Homo sapiens: one gene and its partners. The protein of the gene in region 1 purifies or fractionates together with the protein of each later gene. This does not show direct contact. Each region holds a gene or a part of one and is shown on either strand. Other genes may lie near its edges. The genes, in order: DQX1, MYO5C and PEAK1.

The links.
Region 2: the proteins of DQX1 (region 1) and MYO5C purify together in Homo sapiens (affinity purification with mass spectrometry; 2 studies listed by BioGRID and IntAct, with this or other methods). This does not show direct contact.
Region 3: the proteins of DQX1 (region 1) and PEAK1 purify together in Homo sapiens (affinity purification with mass spectrometry; 2 studies listed by BioGRID and IntAct, with this or other methods). This does not show direct contact.

Annotation. Positions count from the first base shown.
Region 1 is NC_000002.12:74,519,581-74,523,332, forward strand, and holds part of DQX1 (ATP-dependent RNA helicase homolog DQX1), read right to left. Parts: coding exon 3,730-3,752; intron 3,639-3,729; coding exon 3,539-3,638; intron 3,451-3,538; coding exon of another isoform or gene 3,435-3,450; coding exon 3,276-3,434; intron 3,192-3,275; coding exon 3,000-3,191; intron 455-2,999; coding exon 335-454; intron 167-334; coding exon 1-166. UniProt on the Homo sapiens protein: Might be involved in RNA metabolism; it is missing helicase motif III and may not have helicase activity.
Region 2 is NC_000015.10:52,294,198-52,297,949, forward strand, and holds the start of MYO5C (unconventional myosin-Vc), read right to left. Parts: upstream 1,608-3,752; 5' UTR 1,440-1,607; coding exon 1,413-1,439; intron 1,015-1,412; exon of another isoform or gene 687-1,014; intron 1-686. UniProt on the Homo sapiens protein: May be involved in transferrin trafficking. Likely to power actin-based membrane trafficking in many physiologically crucial tissues.
Region 3 is NC_000015.10:77,133,441-77,137,192, reverse strand, and holds part of PEAK1 (inactive tyrosine-protein kinase PEAK1), read left to right. Parts: intron 1-3,442; coding exon 3,443-3,752. UniProt on the Homo sapiens protein: Probable catalytically inactive kinase. Scaffolding protein that regulates the cytoskeleton to control cell spreading and migration by modulating focal adhesion dynamics. Acts as a scaffold for mediating EGFR signaling.

The DNA of each region.
Region 1 (3,752 bases):
GCTTTCTGAAGGTCTCTGCGATTCTGCTCAGAGCCAAAGGCTGGTAGGGACAAGGGAAGTTCAATTCGTTGCATGAGTTCTAGGAGTTCTCCCCGAAGTTTATGGGCTTGGCACAATGCTGCCCAATTCAGACCTCGAGCCTGGCACCAAGCCTCATCTGCTCCACCTAGGAGAGGAAAGGGACCAGCTAAACTAAAGTCCTTGAGACCCCTGAAATAACCCAACCCTTAGCCAAAGGGCCTCCTCTTTCTGAGCATAGAGATCTGTCAGCTGGCTGCATAAAATTTCCCCTCTTTGGAAAATCTGGGATTCTATAAAAGGATGCAGAACTCACTTTGTATAAAGGCTTCATACACCTGGATCAGAGAACTGTGGTCACCATCCGTGTGTTCCAGGGCCCGACGCAGGGCAGCTTCTTCTGCACTGAGTGGAGGACGGGTAAACCCAGGGGCAGCTGGAGGCAGAAGAGTGGAAGGTAGAATCTGCCATTTGGGAAATGGGAAGGGATAGTAGTACAGGTAGAATGCTGAAAAGGCAGAAGTGTCCCTTTGGGAACTTTATTCAAAAGACATAGATAACTTCTAGGTGCTATGCACTTTATTAAACATTGAGGATAAGTAAATGAAATACAGTCTCTGCCATCAAGGAGCTTCAAGTCTGGTGGGAGAGACCAACAGGTAAGCAGACTTGATAAGCATGATAGGTGTTTGTATATGGTACTGTGGAAACAAAGAGGAGGATACCTAATCCAGGCTTTAGGTGGTGAGGATGTGAGTGATGTAAGAGAAAACGATGAGGACCCTTGGGCTAGTATTTGAAATTTGAGTAGGAATTAGCCGAGTGGAGACGGGGCAGGGAGTATGTTTTAGACTGTGGCAACAGCATGGCACGTAAGTTAATAATATAGCATATTTGGGGAACTGCAAGCCATCTGGTATGGGTGGAGGGAATGAAATGACGTGGCAGAATGGCAGGAGATAAAGCTGGAGAGGTAGGTATAGGTAAGGTCATGAGAGGCTGGAGTACTGAGGAAAGGAACTGTCTTTAAGGTAAAGAGTAGCTGTAGAGGAAGAGTTGTGGGGTTTTTTTTGTTGTTGTTGTTTGTTTATTTGAGACAGGGTCTCACTCTCTTGCCCAGGCTGGAGTGAAGTGGCGTGATCATGGCCCGTTGCAGCCTCAACCTCCCAGGCTTAAATGATCCTCCTACCTCAGTCTCTTCAGTAGCTGAGACTACAGGCATATGCCACCACACCTGGCTAATTTTTTGTTTTTGTAGAGACAGGGTCTCTCCTATGTTGCCCAGGCTGGTCTCAAACTCCTGACCTCATGTGATCCTCCCATCTCAGCCTCCCAAAGTGCTGAGATTACAGGCACAAGCCACCACGCCTGGCTGAAGAAGAGTTTTTAAGTAAGAGAGTCCATGTGTCTGAAAAAGTTCACATTACTAGTTAGGAGGCTACTGAGGAAAACCAGCTGAGCAATGAGGAGGACCTACCATTGGCAGATCCTACCTACCGTATTCACTGGAAGTGAATATGGAGAAGGACAGATGAATATATTTATATATATATTTACATTTAGGAGATAAAAGTGAAATAACCTGGAGAAAGACTGGTCTAGAGTGATGGTAGCAGAGCAGCAGAGATAATAGTATTATCTGAATCTAAGACTCTAGAGAGAGGAAAAGATTTTGTGGTGATGGTGGTGAGGGAGTGGTTTAATAGAGCATTTGAGTTCAGTTCTGAGCTGAGGTACTGTTAACTATTCTGGTAGAAATGTCCATCAGGGGCTGGGTGCCGAGGCTCAGGCCTGTAATCCCAGCAGTTTGGGAGGCTGAGGTGGATGGATCACCTGAGGTCAGGACTTTGAGACCAGCTTGGCCAACATGGCAAAAACCCGTCTCTACTAAAAATACAAGAATCAGCTGGGCATGGTGGTGCGTGCCTGTAGTCCCAGCTACTTGGGAGGCTGAGGCATGAGAATTGCTTGAACCAGGCAGACAGAGGTTGCAGTGAGCTGAGATCATGCCATTGCACTCCAGCCTGGGTGACAGAGTGAGACTTTGTCTGAAAAAAAAAAAAAAGAAAAAGAAAAAAAGAAACGTTCATCAGGAGTTGGAGTATGCTCTCTCTCTCTCCCTCTCTTTCCCTCTCCCTCTCTCCCCCTCTCCCCCTCTTTCCCTCTCCCTCTCTCCCCCTCTTTCCCTCTCCCTCTCTCCCCCTCTCCCCATGCGTCTCTCCCTTGCTCTCTCTCTGTCTCTCAGATTCGAAGAATGGTATTGGGTGAGAGATACACGGCACAAGGTTTGGAAATTTTAAGGCTAAAGGTAGCACTTCAAACCATGGGTGTGGATAAACTTGCTCAGAGAGTTCAGGGAATAGAAGACAAAAGAGGCAAGAATAGAACCCTGAGGACCAATTTACAATGGATAAGAAGAGGACAAAGAGCTCAAGGAAAAGATAAAGGGGATGACCAGAGACGTAGGATGAAATCCATGAGGAGCAGCGTTACAGAGGCCTAGGGAGGAGGCAGTTTCAAGGTGGAGCGGTCAGCAATCTCAAGTGTCAAAAGAAGGTCATGAATAAGGGTTCAAAAGTATCCACTGGATTAGGTACCTGGAAGGTCACTGGTGAGTTGAAAGCTGTTTCACTGGCATGGTAGACCTGAAGCTGGAGTGCAGTGGGTGAGCAATACACCAGTTAGAACAGGATAGAAATCATGCTGCATAGCTGAAGGGGAGGATAGGGTTGAGGAAGAGGGGTGTGTGAGTTTTAGCAATAACAGATTAGGAGAGATTTAAGCATGCTGAGGGCAAGAACCAGCAGAGAAAAAAGGCTAAAGAGACAAGAGGGAGATGGGTGACTAAGCCTGGTTCTTTAGGCATTGTGAGGGGTGGCAACTGGAGCAGAGAGGAAAGGGCTAGCCTCAGGAGCACCAAAACCCAAGAGGAAGGGCTGAAGTGGTTTCAAGAGCTATGGATTTACAGCAGCGATTTATACCTGTGAGCATGGCAGCCAGGGTGAGCATCTCGTCCACACAGTCAAACTCGCATGAGGCCAGCAGGGCTTTGGCCAGCTCAGGGGCCAGAGGGAATTCTGATAGTATGACACCCAGATCTGACAGGTCCCCATCATCATCCAGGGCTGCCAGATAGTCTAAATCTTCCAGGGCTTGCATCAGTGCTTCTGGAGCTGGTGAGGAAACAGGGCTTACAGGATATGAAGTTTCAGAACTGGGTGGTCAGATGGCAGTGCTTGGGCAGGAGAGGTGCTCACCAGGCTGGTCCAGGAAGTGACACTCCCCTGGCTCTGCAATCTGTCTCCTTTTTAGTAGTAACACCAGGGAGCTCAGATTCTCCTCACACACCCTGGGTTGTGGCAATGGTGGAGCTTCTAGTTCTAAGAAGGACTTAGGATACAGGCAGAGGCAGGATCCTGAGGGGAAAAAGACCTGGGAAAGAAGACCACTGTAGATTTCTCAGGGCTTGCATGTTGGTGACTCTTGGGTTTTTTATTTCAGTGAGGGCAAAGGCTCTTACCTGGTGGGAACCCTCTTGCTCGCAATCGTCTTGCCTCTGCCTGACACTTGCTGATTGGCCTCAACACTTGGAATTCTGCTCGGATCCTAGGATTGTAAACCTGTTGCCCGTCCCCCAACCAAGGCCAAGACAGATCAGAGTGGGCCATTTCTGTCTTTACTACCCCACCGCTATCTCTCTCTCTCACTCACACTTCGGAGCTCCAGTCCTGAGT
Region 2 (3,752 bases), on another chromosome or scaffold:
GAAATACTGTCACCTCAAATAGGTTCAGCAGCAGCATTTTTCTCTGTCCTCCAAAGTATCGTCGAAGACTAGTCCAAGACTTTTCTTTCACTTCCAGTAAACTGAAGGCTGAAGAAGCGCTGTTGGCTGTCTGAGGGCTCACAGTCTCACTGGTGAAAATATTCTAGAACAAAACTAGGGCAATTCAAACACTGTCCATTTAGAACTCCAGTTAATGGAGATGCAATAGAGGAGAAACTACAGTTCGGTTGCTTTGTGTCCGGACTGTTACTAAGTAATCAAAGTAGAAGAAAAACGTTTGCTTAAACCATTGAAACATGATTTTTTAAATAACTATCTTTTCTATCTACAGCAAAAGCATCTTTTAAAGTAGAAAGCTAGAGCATGTGTCCGGGGAAATGGATGGATTCTAGTTCCACTCGTCTGAATACTGAGGTCTCTAGATTTCCCCAACTGGTGTATAGGAGGATCAGGCTTTATGGCTATTCAAATGGATTTTTTTTTTCAAAAGTGCTAACACTGTCACACTCTTTATCCAAATAATTACCCAAGCCCATCTCAGAGGGTTTGGGACATATGTGGGAACGCTGCCCTTCCGAGGTAAGAGGTGGAGCCCCAGCCAGCAGAAAGGAAGCTTCTGAGGAATGCTCTAGTGTTTCCCAGAGTCAGGGTATATGAAAGGCGCTTTAGAAACTGTGGTGTTTGTACTGTTGCTAACAGTACAGATGTTAGGCAAAGAGCCTACGACTGCACCTCGTGGCCCCTGGGCTCCCCAAGCGCTTGGTGCCACTGCAGTGCCCTCAAGCCTGTGACCCAGGCTGCTTCAGCTTCTGATGAGCCTACATGCACGTTCACGCACTTTGAAGACACAGAATTCTAGAAAGCAGCCCGAACACTGCGGCCATAAGCTTCTATGCCAGCTCGTTCAAGGGGGTCCCAGGAGGGGCCAGGAGACTGGCCGGCGTCTCAGCTTCCTACGTCCGCATGGGCAACTCTGATTCCACCCGTGGTGTGGTAGGAAGGGACCGAGGCGCTCCAGTCCCGGGAGATGGGGACGCACGCGCGACCCCTGGGCACTGGGGATTCTAGGCCCCGAGGCCGGAGCGGCGGAGGGGGCGGCCCCTCCCACAGGGTCTTCCCACCCACAGGGCACCCAGGCGCAGCGGAGCCAGGAGGGGGCTTACCCGCGGGCAGGGACGGAGCACGCCGGGGCCCTGGAGGGGCGACGCTCGCTCGTGTCCCCGGTCCCCGTGGCCCCTCCGCGGCGCCTCCGCGGCCCCCAGCGCGCGCCCGCCCGCCCTGCCGTGTCAGGTGCGCAGGTGTGGCAGGTGTGGCCCGGGCGCCAGGTCGAGTCAGCGTTAGCAGGGCCGGCTCCCCCACAGCGCTCCCAGGAGCCCAGCGGACCCTCCTACCTGCGTGTACAGCTCGGCCACCGCCATGGGCAGGAGGGGCCGGGGCCAGGCCGGGGCTGCCGAACGTGCGAGGCTCGGGGGCTGGGCCTGCGCCGCAGAGGCCGGGCGCAGGAGAGACCGCCGCGGAAATCACCGCCGGGCCATCTTGCCCAAAGTTTTCCAACGGCCTCCTGTTCCCGTTCCCGAGTTGGCGGCGAGGGGAGGGGGCAGCGGCGGGATTGGTCCCTCCAAGCTTGGCCCGGCTAGTCGGCGCTGCCATTGGCCGGGGCCGGGCGGCTGCACCTGGCGGGAGCGCGGGTGGAGAAGGTTGGGGCCCGGGGCGCGCTGCCAGGCAGGAACAGATGCATCCGGAGGCTGCCCGGCCCGAGTGTTAGCTCCTCAAAGAGCAGAGGATACGACCATTTAAATGGAAGACCCAAGGGAATCAACGTACTGAACACAAAGAAATGTGTTAAGAGTCCAGCAAGGTCATCGTATTCAAAATCAAATACAAAAATAAGTAATGGTCCTTTATATGAGCATTGTCTATGCAATACAAGATATTTACAATATTAGTGAAAATATAAAGTATCCAGAGATTACACTCGCAAAAATGCCCTTGGCCTTTGTGGAGAAAATGTTTAAAATTCTCTTAAAGAGCTTAAAAGAAGGCCCAGGTAAACGGGAGACATGCCATTTTCCTGGCTGGGAATATTTAATATGGTCAAGGTGTCACTTCTACCCAAATCAATATATATGCCTAATATATTGGCGTCAGAATCCTACAGAACTTTTGGAGAATTGTACAATGATTCTATATTTCATATAGAATAAAAGCCCTGTATAACTAAGACAATTCTCAAAGAGGAGAGATTTGTCCTGCCATATATTTAGGGACATAACAAAGCAGTAGTCATTAAAACAGTGTGACACTTGCGTGAGAACGGATACGTGAGTAATGGAACATGCTGGAGCCCCCCAGCAGGGCCCTACATTATACGGTAGCCTTAAGGACCAGATAGGGAAATAAAATAATATTTATTAGATGGGCCCGTTATATGGAAAAACAATAAAAGCAGATCCGTGGCAAACACTGCATCCAAAAATAAGCTCCAGATGGATTCACGATTAAAACTTAAAACCGGGAAATTATTAGGAATAAAAGAGGGATAATATCTTTAAAATGTTGGGTTATAGTAGTTTCCATATAGAAGAATTGTTAATCGGTTAAAGAAAAGAAATCCAATTTTTAAAACTGACAAAAATTAATAGGCAATTCACAGATGGGGACACTTAAATGGCTTGTTAGCATACAAGGAGATGTCAACTTTAGCAGTAATCAGATAAATACAAATGAAAACAACAATGAGATATTGCTTTTTACCCATCATATTGGCAAAAACATTTAGGTTAGACAATCTCAGATACTGCCTAGGATGTGAGAAAATAAAAACTTGGCCGGGCGCGGTGGCTCACGCCTGTAATCCCAGCACTTTGGGAGGCCGAGGCGGGCGGATCACGAGGTCAGGAGATCGAGACCATCCTGGCTAACACGGTGAAACCCCGTCTCTACTAAAAATACAAAAAATTAGCCGGGCGAGGTGGCGGGCGCCTGTAGTCCCAGCTACTCGGGAGGCTGAGGCAGGAGAATGGCGTGAACCCCAGGGGGCGGAGCCTGCAGTGAGCCGAGATTGCGCCACTGCACTCCAGCCTGGGCGACAGAGCGAGACTCCGTCTCAAAAAAAAAAAAAAAATAAATAAAAAAAATAAAAACTTTTTTTGCTTACATAACTGGTGGGAATATACTGCCATCCTGGAGAGCAATTTGAGAATAGTTATGAAAATAAATGTAGGCAGAAAAATTCTCACAGTCACCCAAAGAGACAGTTAAGTAGATGTTCATCACAACATAGTTATTTATCAAAGAGTTGGAAGCATCTAAATATCAATAGGGGAATAAATAAAATAGTATATACATGGCAGACAGCAGAGAAAAATAAAAAAAGAAATAGTATATACATGTAAAACTCTACAGCTGTTAGTAGGAATAGACATGATCTACTTGACTCAGAAATAAAAAACAATGTTGAATAGATGTCTAGCCCAAGTCTTTAATATTTAAAAACTCACAAAAACTGCAATACTGAATATTGTTCATGGGTACAAGTATGTGTGAATAGAGGTAAGGAGGATAAATTACAAAGTCATTCATTAAATATGCAAGAGTGGATACCTATGAGGGAGAGAAATGGAATCGGAGATTTCAAAAAGGGGATCAAAAAATATAAAGAGAGGCCTGGCATGGATCAATAATGATAAATGCCACAAAGAGAGGATCATGGTAAATTTAATTTTGCATTT
Region 3 (3,752 bases), on another chromosome or scaffold:
CCCTGCAGCCAACTTCTGCCTCAGCATCCAGGTGTTTTCATACATCCTCTGAAACCTAGGCAGAGGTTCCCAAACCCCAGTTCTTGACCTCTGTGCACTCACAGGCTCAACGCCACATGGAAGCTGCCAAGGCTTGGGGCTTGCACCCTCTGAAGCCACAGCCTGAGCTCTACAGTGGCCCCTTTCAGCCATGGCTGGAGTGGTTAAGATACAGGGCACCAAGTCCCTAGGCTGCACACAGCAAGGGGACCCTGGGCCTGGCCCACGAAACTACTTTTTTCTCCTAGGCCTTCGGGCCTCTGATGGGAGGGTCTGCCGTGAAGACCGTTGACATGCCCTGGAGAAATATTTCCCATTGTCTTGGGGATTAACCTTCAGCTCCTCGTTACTTATGCAAGTTTCTGCAAATTTCTGCAACCAGCTTGAATTTCTCTTCAGAAAAATGGTATTTTATTTTCTATCACATTGACAGGCTGCAAATTTTCTGATTTTTATTTTATTTTTATTTTTATTTATTTATTTTTTTGGAGACGGGGTCTCACTCTGTCACCAATACTGGAGTACAGTGGCATGATCCCGGCTCACTGCAACCTCCACCTCCGAGGTTCAAGCGATTCTCCTGGCTCACCCTCCTGAGTAGCTGGGACTACAGGTGTCTGCCACCACACCTGGCTAATTTTTGTATTTTTAGTAGAGACAGGGTTTCACCATGTTGGCCAGGCTGGTCTCAAACTCCTGACCTCAAGTGATCCACCTGCCTCAGCCTCTCAAAGTGCTGGGATTACAGGCATGAGCCACTGCGCCAAACCAAATTTTCTGAACTTTTATGCTCTGCTTCCCTTATAAAACTGAATGCCTTTAACAGCACCTAGGTCACCTCTTGAATGCTTTGCTGCTTAGAAAATTCTTCTGCCAGATACCCTAAGTCTTCTCTCTCAAGTTCAAAGTTCCACAAATCTCTAGGGCAGGGCCAAATTGCTCCAGTCTCTTTGCTAAAACATAACAAGAGTTACCTTTGCTCCAGTTCACAACGAGTTCCTTATCTCCATCTGAGACCACCTCAGCCTGGACCTTATTGTTCATATCACTATCAGCACTTTTGTCAAAGCCATTCAACAAGTCTCCAGGAAGCTGCAAACTTTTCCACATTTCCCTGTCTTCTTCTGAGCCCTCCACACTGTTCTAACCTCTGCCTGCTACCTAGTTCCAAAGTTGCTTCCACATTTTCGGGTATCTTTTCAGCAACACCCCACTCTACTGGTACCAATTTACTGTATTAGTCCATTTTCACACTGCTGATAAAGACATACACGAGACCAGGCAATTTACAAAAGAAAGAGATTTATTGGACTTAACAGTTCCACATGGCTGGGGAGGCCTCACAATCATGGCAGAGAGCAAGGAGGAGCAAGTCACATCGTATGTGGATGGCAGCAGGCAAAGAGAGAGAACGTGTGCAGGGGAACTCCTCTTTTTAAAACCCTCAGATCTCATGAGACTTATTCTCTATCATGAGAACAGTACGGGAAAGACCTGTGCTGACTCAGTTACCTCCCACTGGGTCCCTCCCACAACATGTGGGAATTCAAGATGAGATTTGGGTGGGGACACAGCCAAACCATATCAAGTAATTAACATTGTGTTATAATTGCCCACAGTATTCAGTACAGTACCATGTTGTACAGGTTTGTAGCCTATAAGCAGTGGGCTATACCATATGGCCTAGGTGTGTAGTAGGCTGTACCATCTAGGTTCGTGTAAGTACACTCTATGATTTTTGCGTAATTATGAGATTGCCTAACTCTCTCAGAACTTATCCCTGTCATAAGCAACACTTACTATTACAATCCCAGATTATATTGGTGCTTACCGTTGACATGCTGCAAGGACGTGATTTTAACAAAACAAACCACCACCCCTATTCATTGTCATCCTCAGCACCATCCAGCACCTTCTACTCTATATGAACAATAGTAGGAGAATGTATGAGTTTCCTAGGACTGCTGTAAAAAAGTACCACAAATGGGTGGCTTAGAACAACACAAATATATTCTCTCACAGTTATGGAGGCTAGGAGTCTGAAATCAAGGTGTCAGCAGGACTGTGTTCCCTCTGAGACAGTGGGTAGATTCCTTTCTTGCCTTTGTCTGGCATCTGGTAGTGGCCATCAATGCTTGGTATTCCTTAGTCTGCACCTGTGTCACTCCAGACTCTGCCTCCAATGTCATGTAGTGTTTTCCCTCTCTGTCCCTGTCTTTACATGGTGTTTTTTCTTCTTATAAGGACATCAGCCATATTGGATTAGGGCCCGTCCTAATGACCTCATCTTAACTATTAAATCTACAGACTTCCAACAGGTCACATTCATAGGTACCAGGGGTTAGCACTTCAACATACCTTTTTGGGGGATATAATTCAACCCATAACAGAGCCTTATAACTCTGAGATCTTGAGTAGAGGCCTCATTTTAATAACAGAACTAATTTTTAATAGCCTTTATAGAAGTTTCATGTATATTTTTCTGTCTTTAAAAAATAATGTGTTCTCTCTGTTATACAATAAGCCCTGAAGGTATATTCAAACACACATGTGTTTTATCTTTTTCTAATCATAAATGCTGGAAACTAAGCACAGATGAATGGTTCTCTAACTAGGGCTTATAAAAGATGTTGAAAGATAGTATCTCTCAAATCACAATGTATATGCCCACCAAAATAAAAGAGAATCACATAAGAGTTTGGGAATTCGTGTTCAGAACAGAAGTTGACTGCTCATATACACTGTTCCCCTTACCACAATCACAGGAATCTTTTACGTAGACCAGTTTAAGCAATGTCAGAATCCATCTCTATAGTAAAATAAATAGCATGGCTTTTGAAATTGTATTCATGTGTTGGAAAATGTTATATGCATGACAAATGCTATATATAATACAATGTAACTTTGGAATAAAAAGAACAGAATAGTATCTTCTGAGCCCCTGTCTAATGGTCACATTGCTAGTTTCAATTCTGTTTGTAATAAAGCTCCCAAGTATTTTCTTTATCCACAATGCTATCATCTCTACTCTGTCACAATCCAAGTATATTCGAGTGTCTGTCATCCCTTAATATTCTGGTGTGGTGAATATATAGCACTCTGAAGGGTGGGACTGGAGAATCTGGTTTCCTTTTTGAAAACAAAACTCATCACCCAAACCAGTGCCCTGTTCCTAGACAAGGCCAAGACATTATGCATATTTGTCGTTCCCACCAAGGCTTGGATACTTCAATGTTTAGGTATTTGTTCTTTGGTTGTTCTCTTTTCCCATTTTGAACTAAAGAGTTGACTTATTCTTACATTCCCATGGCTACCTCACTCATTTCTGCTCAAGTTTCAGTTATAAAATTAGATTGAAAACTTTACTTACTCTTTTCTTTTTATTGCTTTAAAAACAATACAGGGCAATCTAGAGCAGCCATGATACCTCCCAAGCAGCCACGACAGCCCAAGGGAGCTGTGGACGATGCCATCGCCTTTGGAGGGAAAACAGACCAAGAAGCACCCAATGCTTCCCAACCTACACCACCCCCACTGCCAAAGAAGATGATCATAAGAGCCAATACAGAGCCAATCTCCAAGGACCTCCAAAAATCCATGGAAAGTAGTCTTTGTGTCATGGCTAATCCCACCTATGATATCGACCCCAACTGGGATGCCAGCAGTGCTGGTTCTTCCATCAGCTATGAACTCAAAGGACTGGACATTGAGTC